Homo sapiens: one gene and its partner. The protein of the gene in region 2 interacts with the protein of the main gene of each other region in a pairwise test. Each region holds a gene or a part of one and is shown on either strand. Other genes may lie near its edges.

The links.
Region 1: the proteins of IGSF21 (region 2) and UBE2V2 interact in a two-hybrid assay, tested with the Homo sapiens proteins (one large-scale study listed by BioGRID and IntAct).

What each region holds. Positions count from the first base shown.
Region 1 is NC_000008.11:48,062,794-48,065,336, reverse strand, and holds the end of UBE2V2 (ubiquitin-conjugating enzyme E2 variant 2), read right to left. Parts: 3' UTR 629-2,543; downstream 1-628. UniProt on the Homo sapiens protein: Has no ubiquitin ligase activity on its own. The UBE2V2/UBE2N heterodimer catalyzes the synthesis of non-canonical poly-ubiquitin chains that are linked through 'Lys-63'. This type of poly-ubiquitination does not lead to protein degradation by the proteasome.
Region 2 is NC_000001.11:18,289,298-18,292,951, reverse strand, and holds part of IGSF21 (immunoglobulin superfamily member 21 precursor), read right to left. Parts: exon of another isoform or gene 3,422-3,654; intron 1,898-3,421; exon of another isoform or gene 1,087-1,897; coding exon 965-1,086; exon of another isoform or gene 1-964. UniProt on the Homo sapiens protein: Involved in synaptic inhibition in the brain. Selectively regulates inhibitory presynaptic differentiation through interacting with presynaptic NRXN2.

The DNA.
Region 1 (2,543 bases), on a different chromosome or scaffold from region 2:
CACTGCACAACACTTAACATGGTATTTGGTCAGTTAAACACTGGAGAAAGGATAATCCCTGGAATCTCTATAAGAAAACAACATCTATCAGCCTTTATCATTTACTTCACAAATTAACCTGAAGCAAAAACTTTTCAGATGGTCTTATAGACTACACAGAAATATGAGATGCCAGCCAGGGGTGGTGGCTCATGCCTGTTATCCCAGCATTTGGAAGGCTAAGGCAGGAAGATCACTTGAGGCCAAGAGTTTCAGACCAGCCTATACAACAGAGACCCAGTCTCTACCAAAAACAAAAAACAAAACAACAACAACAACAGCAAAAACAGACATGGTGGCGTGCACCGGTAGTCCCAGCTACTCAGGAAGCTGAGGCGGGACGATCACTGGAGCCCAGGATAGCCAAGGGTAAAGTAAATCGTGATCGCACCAATGCACTCCAGCCTGGGTGATAGTGCAAGACCCTGTCTCTAAAAAAAAAAAAAAAAAAAAAAAAAAAATTTAATTTTAAACATGAGATGGAGCAGATTCTTAGGAATTTTTTAGATGAAAAGATCCTATTAAGGATATAAACACCATAGCAACCTCCTCATATCCAATGGTTTTTTTCAATCATGTAACTCACTCCTTGAGTTTGCACAACTCCTTTATTGAAACAAAATGGACTTTAACTTGTCACTTATTTCCTATATCATTAAATACCTTCATTAATTTTCTCTTCAGAAAATACTTATTGTGTATCTTTATTTTCAACACTCCACAATACTTTTAAATAAACAACATTTTCAGTATGAACTATGGTAAGATTTCATCATTCTATAAGGCATATTATTTAGGAGGTATTCCTTCCTATGCATTTCCTATTTTACAGTAAACTCAGTATCAGGTAAAAATTAACTGCTAATGTTCCTATCAACAATTCATCCATTCCTTTTTATGACACTTTTATCTTGTATACAAAAAAATACACAATTTTCCCAAACCTTGAGGAGTTGAATTTTGTGTGTGTGTGACAATAATTAAAAGCCAGTCAAGTTGGTACTGGAAAATCATTTTGATACTTATCAGAAAAGTAAAAGCAGTGCTTTTCGATCCATCCCAGCAATAAATGATACTATGATATTACACATACAGATGCCTAAAAAGCATACTATAAAAGGAAAATTCCTGAAATGCCTCCAAAATCCTATTATGCATACTAGACTTTATCATCAGTACTTATATTCTTCAAAATGTACCTAATACAGTCACATGCTCATTAAAAGAGTTGATACAGTTTTGATGGCAGGCTACAGTTCCCTGCTGTCTTTCCATGATGCATCAGCAGAACCATTCAAAGCCACACACACCAAACCTATTAAGAAAAAAGCATTCATAATTCCCAGCTGTGTCCTCTACATTTTCCAAACAATATTAATTTCACATGTATTTATCAATATTATATATTTAGTGGGAATTAACATTAAAATCAACATATTGTTCTTAAGTAATCCAGACTAATAAACCATGAGTCAAACAAATCTACTCTGCGAAAACCTCAAATCACTCTGTGTGATAAATTATTTTAATAACATAAAGCTATAAATTTTCTCTATTTTTATATCCAAGACTAAATACCATTGACTATCCTTCAAAATGTTTATGTTCCAAAATCCTGTAGTTACACATAAACCCACAACAAAAGACATTACTTTAGAATGGTAGAAAAAAATATTTTTAAAAATTGTCAATTCTTAAAATTGGTTAAGTAATTAAAACCATTAAATCATAACACTGACCTAACAGGACAAGAAGTTTCTTTTGGTAATCTTTATTAGTATATGATCATCCTCAAGGGTCTCACTTGCTAGCCTTTTAAACAAATTTCTAAGGCAAATTTACAGTTCATTTAAAAGGTAATAAATACCACACACTCCTACAACCTTAGCCACTTTACAAAACAAAGGAAAAATTTCTTCCAAATGTTATTATAATTAAGAGCTTTTCTATATTAATTCCTCTTACAGTCTCCCAGTGTGTCTTAGATTGCCAAGTACATCTTGATTGTGACATGCAAAATGGATTCTGCTTTAGAAATGGGTTAATTGGCATGCAGATTTCTGCAGAGATCCATAATCCCACAAACAAGAGGGGAAATGAACATTATAGGGCTGACTCTGACAACATGTACTTGGCAGGGGAAGGCGGCAGGGGGTTGGCAACTTCACAATGGTGGATTTGGGGGAAGGAAACAGGACAAGAGACTGAGGTACCCAGACCCTCATCCTGCCAACAGCATTCACGTAGTTACTAGCTTCCATGTATAATAAGACACATTTTCAAAATGGAAAGGAGGTTATCAGAGAGACGGATTCAGATCATCAGTTACCATTAGACTACAGTTTCATTCAATTTAATCTTTAACCATTAAAAATTTTTAAAGACTATATTTCAAGGTAATAGTTCATTTCAAATTTAACAAATTACAAATGCACTAATTTGTATGTATGTGTATGTTCTCTATGTGTCATCTTAAAGCATTTTAAACATTTTTGATAATTAAA
Region 2 (3,654 bases):
ACCACTACTTTCAGGCTGGGCACCTGGCAAAGCATTTGGCGGTGTGGCGTGGAAGAGTGTGTGTGTGCAAAGCTGTGCACTCTTCATGAATGCAGTGAGATTCCCTCTGAGGAGGGGTGGGTACTGGGGCAGTTGCAGCCGACCAGCTTTGGGGGATCAGTTCAGCTAAGGTGAGGGCTCCCATGGGTGGAATTGCTGGAGTGGGGTTCTGAAGGCTGATGAGGAGTTTACCAGATGACCGAAGGGAGAAAGGCCCTTTGAGAAGAGGGACCGGTGTGTGTTAAGGGTCAAAGGGATAAAACAGGACTAGGATCTTGTAGGGAGTTTGTGGGAAGGAGATAGAGCCACACACATAGAGAACAGCAGGCTCTGGAAGATCGAGTCAGCTTGATTCTGCCACCCGCCTCCTGGAAAACAGGGATGGGGTAGGAAAATCAAGCATCTCCGACTTGAGCACTGCTCCTTCCCACCCTGCTGCTTCTGACCTGGGAGTCCAGTTGCTTGGGGTCATTCTCTCTTAAGCTCGGGGCCCTTATGGCCTTGGAGCACACAAAAAACAGTAGAATGTGGTGTTTGAGCTTCCAAGCCGGGCAGAACTGCTTCACCGCCCAGCGGTGTCATTGTTGCCTGTGTGACTTTAGGCCCATTGCTCCCCCTCTCTGGGCCTCAGTATCTCACTTGGAAATAAATGGAGTTTGGAATACCCACCTTCCAGGACTGTTGGAGGAGCTGGCAGAGGAGGCCAGTCAGAAGAGCGGTGGCCTGGCCCTCTCCTGCCTCTTCCCTCCAGGGGATGTCCCTCCAGGGAATGGGTCCCACTTCCATAAGGGGAGCCCCCAGTTCTGCCTTCCAAGCCCAAGAGCACCGAGGGATTGATGTGAAAGGGCTGGAGAACTGCCCTCTGCCCCACTCCCCATCCCTCCGCCCTTCCCCCGCTGTCGGCCCGCCACCCCCAGGCACTCACCTCACAGTGGACTGGTACACCAGGTCCTCTCGCTTGCGGTAGTTCTCCATGTGTGAGTAGTTGGTGGAGAACATGGCGTCGAAGGTGAAGATCTTTTGCTTGATGGTGCCACCATCCGTCACCTGCCACAGAGCACAGAGATAGCCACACGTGAGTGCTCAACCGGCCCTGGTCACCCCTTTCCCCAGGACACTGACAAGATGCAGGCAGGAAGCCCAGAAGAAGGACAGCCCCCATCCTGAGAATAAGGTAATAACCGAGGGCTTCCTGGAGGCAGCGATGTTTTAAGTTGCCTCCTGAAGGAAGAGTAGGAGCCAGCCTGGCAACGGGTGGGAGTTTTCTAGGCAAAGGGAACAGCAAAGGCCCTGCGGCAGGAAAGAGCAGTGTGCGCTCAGGGGAAGCTTGCTGCCTTCACAGCACCTGGAGAAGAAAGGAAGTGGGATGAGAAGAGGCTGCGAAGAAAAATGTGGGCCAGATCATGGAGGGTCTCCACAGCAAAGGAGCTCAGCTTCTCCTGAAGGCGGTGGTCCCCGGGGCCAGGATTAGATTAGATTTACAAGCTCCTCTGGCTATAGATTGAGGATGAATCGAAAGGGGCAAGACTAGAGGCAGGGAGCCCGGGAGGAGGCCAGGAATCCAACATCCCGGCACGGGCGATGCAGACGGGGACAGCGTGGGGCACTTGCCCTCGTCTTGGGATGGGCCAGGAGAGAGGACATGAAGTCCCCATTTCACCTAAGAATGCGGAAGTGGGAGAAGGCAGGGAGGTGGCGATGAAGCCAGCGCTGGAAGCCCAAGGCTGCCGGGCTGTCCCGCTGTTCATGGCTGATGGAAAGCGAACCCAAGCGTCCGTGCCCTCAGCTGCCGCCCGCCTGCTTCCCCACATCTGCGCTGCCTCCAGCTAATGAAAGTGTTACTCCACGAAGCAGCAAGGTATGTGTTGTCACTGTTTCAATTATTTATCTGTTTACTCGGCTGCAGTTTTTCCGCTTGTCTCAGCAACTCTATTATAGACTGGGAGCTTGCAGCCTCTCGCAGCTCAGCTGGGCTCTGCGCTAACAGCCTGCAATGGGGAGGCCTCATGCCTGGGCCTAGAGAAGTGGAATTAGCTCCCTGCGGCTCTGTGTGGTGGAGGCAGCGGGGAAAGGGGCAGGGAGGGGGCTGGCTAGGGACGGGTGACTCCAAGGGGCTGGGGTAGGGGGGATGCTGAAAGCAGCTTCCCCAGGCAAAAAGGTGAGGATTGGAGTGTGAATCTGTCCCCCTGTCACCTGCCTGGGAGTACTGGCCCTAGACACAGCTGGGCTCCTCTGGACACATATGTACCCAAGCTGACTTGGACCACATCTCTCTGACCTAGGTGGTGTTGCTACTGGTTTAGGAGAGACTCCGTGCATCTGGCCAGCACTGGTTGAGCAACCAGCTGTGTGCAGACACAGGCTACGTCTGTGCCAGTCACTTTCCATAGCCTGCAAGCTTTGTAAAGAGTAAGGTGGCCTCTGTGAGGACGGGGGATGGTTAGAATCATGAGAAGGCCTTCGCAGGCTCTGGGACCCTGAGAGGAAGCGGCAGTGAGACTTCCCAGGGCACGGCTTCTCCTTACCCCTCCGTAAGCCCACACCCCTCCTATCTCTGTCGGGACTTAGCGACATGTACACGCGTCACTTTCTTCCCCTCTGAGGGCTTGGCGCTTTCTGACCATGTGCAGAGGGGAGACAGAGGACCACTTCCTCCCACCTGGCTGCTTCTGCAGCACAGGCCCAGCTTCTGAAACGGGACCATGAGAGTGGAGGAAGATGAGGAGGACGGGGACAGGAGGATTCTCCTCTCCTCTTGGGATCCCTGCTGGCACTCACCCCAAGAAAGATGCTCACCCCAACCAACCACACCTTGACTCTGCGTCCACTGTCATCACCCAGAAGAATGTCCCTGAGTTGACTGTGTCCAGCTTGGCATGGGGTGGAGAAGAGAGTTGGCTGTACTTGGGATCAGAGCTTCCATCTCCCCACATCCCAATGTCCCAGCCTGGGGTAGAGGCCAAGACCCTCCAGGGGCTCCCCATTCTCCATGCACCCTCTTCCCATCCCCGCCTCACCCATTTGACTTTTTTACAGCCACCAAAGTACCTTTAAAGCAGGGCCTTTTCACTTGGGGGGTGATTTTGCTCACCCTAACCACCAGGGGACATACAGCAAGCTCAGGAGACATTTTTGGTTGTCACAACTGGGGAGGAGAGGTGCGGTTTGGTAGGTACCAGTGTCTAGCTGATAGAGGCTAGGAAGCTGCTGACCATTCCACTATGTCCAGGACAGCCCCTTGCCCCCCTCCCAAGAATTATCTGGCCCCCAAATGTCAACAGTGCCCAGGTGGAGAAACCCAGTTTTAAGCCCATCACATTGTGTGGCTGTACCAGGTCCCTGGGAACAGAGCCGAATAGACAAGAATGTTCCCATTTTGCAGGTAAAGAAACTGAGGCTTGGAGAGGCAAAATGATTCGGCTGAGGCCCCACACTAGGTTCCTGACAAGCGTCTGGCTTCTGGACCAGAGTTCACATCCCATCCCATCAGGCTGGAAGAGACTGCGGGTGAACTGAATGCCTCTCAACGTCCCTTTCCACCCCTGGTGGCCAGGCTCATTAGGAGAAAGGATGTCAGAATCTCAGTGGAGGTGTGAGGATTTTTCTCCCAAAGTC